Linked DNA regions of Homo sapiens: regions 1 and 3 are each linked to region 2. Evidence: fine-mapped expression QTL. A gene starts in region 2. Each other region holds a variant in brackets. All regions are shown on one strand. Distances are between the middles of the regions.

Region 1 (2,816 bases), 750 kb before region 2:
CATTTGTAAAATGGGAATAATAACACCTACTCTATAGGGCTGTTCTGAAAACTAAATAATTTAATAAATGGAAATTGCTTATAGCAGGGCTAGGCAAAGAGCAAATGCTATGTGTGTTAGTAAAAAGAAAAAAAAGTGATGCAGAGACATTGCTTTCAATAAATTAGTTAATGCCCGAACACAGTTCATTGGATTTGACTATTAGCAGGTCATTGTTATGGGTGAAAGGTACTGTATATAAAAGCACACGCATAAAATATTTATCATTTAAAATTTTTTTCCTTTTTGCTTATTATTTAGAATTTGTGAAGATGAGAGAGAAAACGATGGTAATGTATTTATAAAGAAAAAATAAAAGGGCTAACCCATGTTTCAAAATATACCAAAAACTAGATTAAGGGTGAATTTAATACGGTAAACTAAAGTACAGAATTATCACCCACACAAATGTAAAAGACACATGGCGTTTTTGTTATTAACAATATTAGGTGTCTGAAATCTCACTGGAGTTATTTTAGAAACACAGATGGTCAGACAGATATATGCTGTATGTGAATATGTGAAAAGTAAGTGATGCAAATTATAGCTGGGATAGTCACCTTAAATTTATACATCTTTCTTTCTGATTATGCCATTTAATGGAAAAATTGATACATCTCTACAGAATACAAATATTTATCTATAGCACTAATATGTATAAGTATCTTATTATATATTTTATGGCCAGAAATTATTGTTATTCTTCATACTTAACACTTATTGAATGTTTATTGTGTGCCAGCAACTACTAAGTATGTTATATGTATTCATCCATTTAAACTTCACACCAATCCAATGAGGTAGTTATTACTGACAATTCCATTTCCATTTCACATGCAAGGAAACTGAGATACAGAGAAGTCAAGCAATTTGCCTTTGGTTGCAAATCTAGTAAGTAGCATGGCAAAGAATGAATGCAGGTAGGCTGGCTCCAGAGCCATGCATTTAGTTGTGCTACACTGCCTCTAGAATAAGGAGGAAATAAAAATACATAAGATAAAAAGTAAGAGTCCATGTTACCTTTCAGAGATCTGTCATATTTTGTTATGTAGTAAATTGTGTTCCCTGCAAATTCATATGTTGAAGCTCTATCCCCCGCTACCTCAGAATGAGGCAGTTTTTGGAGACAGGACTTTTAAAGAGGTAATTAAGTTTAAATGATATCACATGGGTGAGCCCTAATGCAATCTGACTGGGGTCCTTATAAGAACAGAAAATTTGGACGCACAGAGAGACACCAGGGATGCACATACAGAGAAAAGACCATGTGAGGACACAGCAAAAAAAAAATCAGCCAAGGGCTGCAAGCCAAGGAGAGAGGCCTTGGTGGGCACCAAACCTGCTGACAACCTGATCTTGGATTTCTAGCCTCCAGAGCTGTGAGAAATAAATTTCTATGAAAACAAATTTCTAATAAATAGTTTATAATTCTTTGTTATAGCAGCCCAAACTGACTAAGAATCATGTGAGCCTATTCCTCATAATACATTTCCATTTGTGTGTGTGTGTGTGTGTGTGTGTGTGTGTGTGTGT[A/GTA]TGTCTGTATCTGTACCAATTTGTTTTCACACTACTATAAAGAAATACTTGAGACTGAGTAATTTATAAAGGAAAGAAGTTTAATTGACTCACAGTTCCACATGGCTGAGGAGGCCTCAGGAAACTTACAATCATGGCAGAAGGTGAAGAGGAAGCAAGGCACGTCTAACATGGCAGCAGGAGAGAGAGAGAAAGAGTGAGGAATTGCCACTTAAAACCATCAGCTCTCAGGAAAACTCCCTCACTGTCATGAGAACACCACAGGGAAAATCTGCCCCCATGATCCAATCACCTCCCACCAGGTCCCTCCCCTGACATGTGGGGATTACAACTGGAGATGAGATTTGGGCGCGGACACAGAGCCAATCAAATCAGTATGTTTGTTTTCTTTCTAATTCTCTTTTCACATAACATGTATTTATTTTATATCACATAATTTAAAATTGTTGATTTTATATTACAGTATTTACATTACAGGATATTAAAAGGAATATAAAACATCACTCAAGAAATTTACCTGCAGCCAGGCACGGTTGCTCATGCCTGTAATCCCAGCACTTTGGGAGGCTGAGGTGGCAAATCATTTGAGGTCAGGAGTTCGAGACCAGCCTGGTCAACATGGTGAAACCCCATCTCTACTAAAAATACAAAAATTAGCCAGGTGTGGTTGTGGGCGCCTGTAATCCCAGCTACTCAAGAGGCTGAGGCAGGAAAATTGCTTGAACCTGGGAGGTGGAGGTTGCAGTGAGCCATGATCATACCATTGCACTCCAGCCTGGGTGACAAGAGCAAAACTCAGTCTCACAAAAAAAAGAAAAGAAAAGAAAAGACATTTACCTCCTCTTCTGGGGAAAGGGTTAGTGTGTTTTTAGTTGTACACAGGATAGTTGTATTATGTTAGGTGGAATTATGACCTTATTATTGTCTTCATTTGGAGATTGAATATGGTTTAAGAAGATGTGTGTGGGTGCTCAGTTGACAAGGAGGAGACTTGTGGTTAATTTTAGGTGTCAACTTGAGTGGGCCACAAGGTCCCCAGAGTAAACACGTTTCTGAGTGTGTCTATGAGGGTGTTTCTGGATAAGATTAGCAGTTGAATCAGGGGATTCAGTAAAGTGATTGCCCTCCCCAACGCGAATGGCACCATCTAATCCACTGAAGTCCTGAATAGAACAAAAGGCAAAGGAAGGAGAGATTTATTCCTTTTTTTCCTGTCTCATCACTTAAGCTGGGACATCTCATTT
Region 2 (2,660 bases):
GGTCCCCCAGCTCAGAAGAAGTGGTGTCAGAATGCAAACCTAGCCTTTGACTATAAGATTTGTGTTCTCTTTTTCTGTTGTTGTTTGAGTTGGAGTTTCACTCTTGTCACCCAGGCTGGAGCACAATGGTGAGATCTTGGCTCACTGCAACCTCTGCCTCCTGGGTTCAAGCGATTCTCCTGCCTCAGCTTCCCGAGTAGCTGAGATTACCCGCCACCATGCCCAGCTAATTTATTTATTTTTAGTAGAGATGGGGTTTCACCATGTTGGCCAGGCTGGGCTCGAACTCCTGTCCTCAGGTGATCCACCCGCCTCAGCCTCCCAAAGTGCTGGGATTACAGGCGTAAGCCACTGCACCCGGTCATGAGTTGTGTTCTTAATCACTAAGCCACAGTGCTTAAATGACGCAATAGGCTAAATTGTTACTAGCATTATTAGAGATAGCATAGTGTAGCTGAGTGCCTAGGAGTTGGTTCCTAAAGCAACCTCAAGTTTCTAAAGTTTGAATTCCATCTCCAATACTTACTAGTCTAAGGCTAGTTACTTAACTCCCTAAATCTCAGCTTCTTTATTGGGAAAAAATGAGAATTCGGTTCAGACTAGGGTTGTTGTTAGGATTAGATGAGACAATACATGTAATACACATGATATATACGAGCACGTATTTGGCATATAGTAGGTACTCAATAACTATTCATACAGCTACTGGAAACAATCTTAATTCTAGTCAAGTTATCAGACCCTTAATATTTTTTAAGCTGACTCCGTACTACATCTTTAAAATTTATGCTGCTAAAGGTAACTCAAAAAAGTTATGACCTTCGATTTTTAATTGCAAATTTGTCAAAATCACCTGAATTTCAGGCCAAATCTAAATGGCAAGCTGGACAAACGGCTCCTTCCAGTCCTGCTTATCAAAAGAAATACGATCACTGGACCATCCGATACAAAGCTGTGCTGCAAGAATTACAGTGTAGAAACATCTTTCGGTTGCCTTCCTAATTTATAAGTCATATTATAAATTACTTACATGCCTTTCAAATTCATAAGCCGTATCTCTTTTACCGCCCAACTGTGGACAGCCCCAGACAGACCCAGCTCACCGAGTGCTGGCCAGGCGCCCCTTGCTTGAACGTGGTGGACAGTGAGATGGGGGGCACTACAGCCCTGGAGGTCCATTGCTCTGGATCCTGGCCCACATGGATCGCCTGCGTGGCGAAATGTTGGAAGTGTGGCAGGAAACCTTGTGAGGAGGCGTCTTTTTCCTGCATGCTGAACCGCGAAAGAAGAAGAGAGGAAAAGAACACCGAAGATATAACCAGTCGAAGCCGGGTGTCCGGGGTTGGGAGAGACAGAAGGATCAGGCGAGAAGGAGCTAAAGCACGCAGGTAGAGCCGACGGCGAGCGCACTAAAGCGGCACACAGCGATTGTTGGGGTGGATTTTATTAGCGGGTCTGCAGTCTCACGATCACAGTGGGGCGGGACCAGCGCGGCCCATTGAGCGCAGGCCCGACGCGTCTCCCGCTCCTTATTGGCTGACAGCAGAGGCGTTGCCTGAAACGTCACCGCGACCGCCCCACCCAGTGCACAAAGCGGAGTGAAGCTGGAGTCCCTGGGTCCAAGTGGTGTTAGTCCCTGCGGGCGAAATTCCTGAGTACCCGTCCTGAGGAGGCTGCCATGCTGGCTCCTGAGAGCCACCCGGGCGTCTCTGTGACCTCAGGCCGGAGGTTCGCCCGAGACGTGGCGGAAAGCTGGCTTAGTGTTGAAACCGGGTAACTGTAAACAGACCACATAAATAGCCTTCTTTTACTGTGGTAGTTACCTCTGACCACCATCCTTTGCCCTGAGGGCGGTGCTAAAAGACGTAAGCCACAACGTGGAGGGTGGTTAAGAAAACAGTTGCCCAAGCCGCCCAGTTTGCAGCTTGGATTCTCATCAGTCACAGCTTGCGTTTTAGGTACACTGAACTCTGTAATGACCCAGTGCTTACGATGACGAAACGATGACTAGAAGTGAAGGTTAAATTGTTCGTAAGACATAACGAAGCTACTGTAGTGAGGACGTCTATGCACAACTCTGGCAGCTTCCTAAAAGTTAGTCAATCTTGAGCTTTTTCAAGCATCATTATCTTCTTTTAAAGTACAGAGAGAAACTCCCCCTAATGAGAAAGATAATGTGGCTTTGAAATACTTACTGGAGCCTAACATCCTTACACAAAATGCTTTTGCTTTTACACAACAGCAACATCCCTGCAGGAAAAAGGATTGTTTACCACTCACCTGCGCCCAGAGCCCTACTCTCAGAAGAATCACTGCTTTAAAACAAAAATCTCCCTGTTCCCTAAGCAATACAGACTTGACCTACTTACTATTGTGGCTGTTTTCTAGCACCAGGAAATTTGGGGATATTTCTGTTGTTGCAAAATATTCGCTAAAGATCTAAAACTTTATTAAACAAATTAAGAACAAGGAGAATAAGGAATAAACAGCTCTTAAAATTTACAGTTTGAAAGAAAGATATGAAGAGAAAGAATGAGGCAATTTGCTTTTCAAATTAGCTTTAGGGACATTTAACCCATTAAGCACTAGAGGAGTGGTGCTTGAGGGCCTACAAGCTTTTAGAATCCTACCAAACTTTGTATGGCTGGGGGAAAAAATGG
Region 3 (2,816 bases), 440 kb before region 2:
CTCTACCTCTATGTCTAGCTCTATCCCTACCTCCACCTCTAGTACTGATACCAGCTCTAGCTCTACTTCTGTCTCTACCTCTACTTCATCTCTATCTCTAGTTCTACCTCTAGTTCTACCTCTAGCTCTAGCTATACTTATATCTCCACCTCATCTCTATCTCTAGCTCTAGTTCTAGCTCTACCTCTACATCTAGCTCTAGCTCTATCTCTACCTATTTCTATCTCTATCTCGATCTCTATATCTATCTCGATCTCTATCTCTATTTCCATAACGCTTTCTCTCCCTACAGTTCAGATTTTGTTCTTGGAAACAGCCTGGGAAACAGGCAGTTTACTATACTTTCTATTTTCCCAAATCTCCATCTCTAACCACACCTCACCCCTGCTACCACCACACAGATTTCTTCGTGGAACATCCCTTGTTTGTGAAGCATTGACACTTATGCAAAAAGGTATTAAAAGTAAGTGTCTGGCAGGGCACGGTGGCTCACGCCTGTAATTCCAAGCACTTTGGGATATGGATCACAAGGTCAGGAGATCAAGACCATGCTGGCTAACACGGTGAAACCCTCTCTCTACTAAAAATACAAAAAATTAGCCAGGCGCGGTGGTAAGCACCTATAGTCCCAGCTGCTCGGGAGGCTGAGGCAGGAGAATCGCTTGAACCCAGGAGGCAGAGGTTGCAGTGAGCCGTGATCGCACAACTGCACTCCAGCCTGGATGACAGAGCAAGAGTCCAACTCAAAAAAAAAAAAATAGTAAAGGTTTCCTGCCTTTATGGACAACCTGTTTGTCAAATATGATCACATTCCATAAATTAGTTTTAAGTTCAACTGGGGTTTCCCTCCTTTCAGCATGCATATTATCTCTTCCCTTCCTCTGGACCTTTCCTATCCATGTCTTTACTAGGATTATTACATGTCTGGTGAGTGCTGTAAACAAAATGTTATGTGTGCAATTAATGCTAATTTGGATGATAGGAAACAGAAATATTAATTCTAATTACTTTTCAAACATAGCTCATGCAATAATAAGAGAATCTGATGTCACTGCAAGACGATTTGGTTGAGATGATAATGCTAATTTATTGAAATGGGTGGGTGTCATAATCAGTTTGAAAAAAAGAGAAACATTTCTAAGACATACCAGATCATATTAATACATCACCGCCACACACAAAATTGGTGTTAACATACAAATTCCTCTGGACGTTTAAGAAGCAATGCCTCCTTAAATATTGAGATCTAGTGAATGCACCTTTTCAAATTGTAATATATAGGTCAGAGGGTTTTTTGTTTGTTTTGTTTTCCTATCTTTCTATTTGGCTTTTCTCTTTACATAGACTAGAGAAATAAAGGCACATGCAAATGCATAGATTTATTTATTTAGATTTCAATTGAAATTTTTCATTATGTTTATTATTTGTAAACACAGGCATCTGCTTGGCTTCATGTGCAAAGCCCTGAATTCATTCTCTTCTTACTGAAGTTCTTGAAATGAAAGTAATACTTTAATATTTGATAATAATAGCCCAAGAAGGATGGTAACATCCAATTGTAAGTATTACATGTC[G/A]AAGAATAAATTTTTTACAGGAAAATGCATTATATTAAGAATCATAGAAGTTTTTACTCATAATAACAAATATGGAAGAAAAAATAGCTTGCGATAAACATACCCAGTCCATATTTGTATCCAACATATATTTTTTCTCTAAAGCAGAATTACAATATAAAAACAAAATTTAGATTCCAAATGGTATGTCATATTAGAGAGAAAAATAGTGCAAATGAACAGTTTAAAACTGTCCAAAAATATGAGTAATTTTATTTGAAAAATGACAAGCATTCTTCAGAGTTCTGGGCCACCCAATTATTTCAATAAGACAAATTGTCTTGGAGAATGGCTCATAAACTCTGAGCCATTCATTAGTTTATTTTTGTATCATCAGGGAGTTAGCTTGGGAAACTGGCAAAATCCTATCTGGCTTGAAAAGTAAATGCCCTTGGATTAGGGTTCTGTGCAACAAAAATTGCAAAAGGCTAATAATTTTACTTAAAAATTTTATGATTATTAATTTTCATTCTGTCAGCCTACATCACAATTAAAAGAAATAAATCATTTTGGCGGTTTGTGCCTGATTTTTCCCAAGTTTCTTTGTTTGTTTGCTTGTTTTAATATTAAGTATATTTCTATTAGCTGGCAACAGCTGTTATTTGGGTGCCTCAGCTGACTGCTCCCAGAATACCCACAGCTTCAGTGTGTACACTTTACTACAAATTCTTGATGTCTGGATTACTAAATAATTAAAACCATTCTTGCACATGTCCAATATAAGAGGGAGTAGATAAACTTCTTGCTTCATACCTTTTTCCAAAAGCTTTTATTTTCAAGTAAAATTGATTCTTATTTGCTTTTAATTTACCAGCCACAACCCTAATATCATTTAACTAGCTAGTTAATAAAGCCTTATAATTAAAGCTTCGTATTAAATCTTTGTATACACAATGATTTATTTGGGACTTAAATTTTGAATTCTTTCCTCCTTAAATTAATAAAATTTTGAGTTTCTGTTTTAATCTTCAAATATTTCAATTATTTGTTTTTTAAACAAACAAGCCTGAACTAAAGGAATGATTGAAATTCATAAATGCCATTTTTTCTCTTACATGATCATACTATTAAAACTATAAAGTTTACACATCAAAATAAGAAGATAACTAAAGACAAAATAAAAAATTGTGAAAGCACCAAGAAATAAATGACACCTTACCTATCAGGGGAAAAATCTTATGGACTCTCCATAAGAAAGAGTAG

Which allele goes with the higher level. Positions count from the first base shown, and alleles are read on the strand shown. Sizes are in standard deviations (SD) of each study's normalised expression.
For the expression in monocytes after R848 of the gene that starts at base 1,419 in region 2, A is the high allele of the variant in region 1 and GTA is the other (moderate effect, 0.67 SD a copy in Quach 2016).
With allele A in place of G in region 3, the expression in prefrontal cortex of the gene that starts at base 1,419 in region 2 is lower (large effect, 1.0 SD a copy in GTEx).

Evidence for each region.
Region 1: its variant is fine-mapped to the expression of CTH in monocytes after R848 (Quach 2016, PIP 0.95).
Region 3: its variant is fine-mapped to the expression of CTH in prefrontal cortex (GTEx, PIP above 0.99).

Annotation. Positions count from the first base shown.
Region 1 is chr1:71,161,204-71,164,019 of GRCh38, reverse strand. All of the region lies in intron 2 of ZRANB2-DT (ZRANB2 divergent transcript), which reads right to left. Among named protein-coding and RNA genes, the nearest start is that of ZRANB2-DT, 81 kb to the right of the region's middle. The variant A/GTA (reference allele first, on the strand shown) is at 1,573.
Region 2 is chr1:70,410,027-70,412,686 of GRCh38, reverse strand. CTH (cystathionine gamma-lyase) reads right to left here and starts at 1,419. Exons shown (of 12, transcript NM_001902.6): 1 at 1,104-1,419. The coding sequence starts at 1,271. RefSeq lists a silencer at 1,379-1,528 and an enhancer at 1,589-1,848.
Region 3 is chr1:70,848,581-70,851,396 of GRCh38, reverse strand. The region is part of intron 3 of LOC102724572 (a long non-coding RNA gene); the gene reads right to left. Among named protein-coding and RNA genes, the nearest start is that of LINC01788, 140 kb to the right of the region's middle. The variant G/A (reference allele first, on the strand shown) is at 1,575.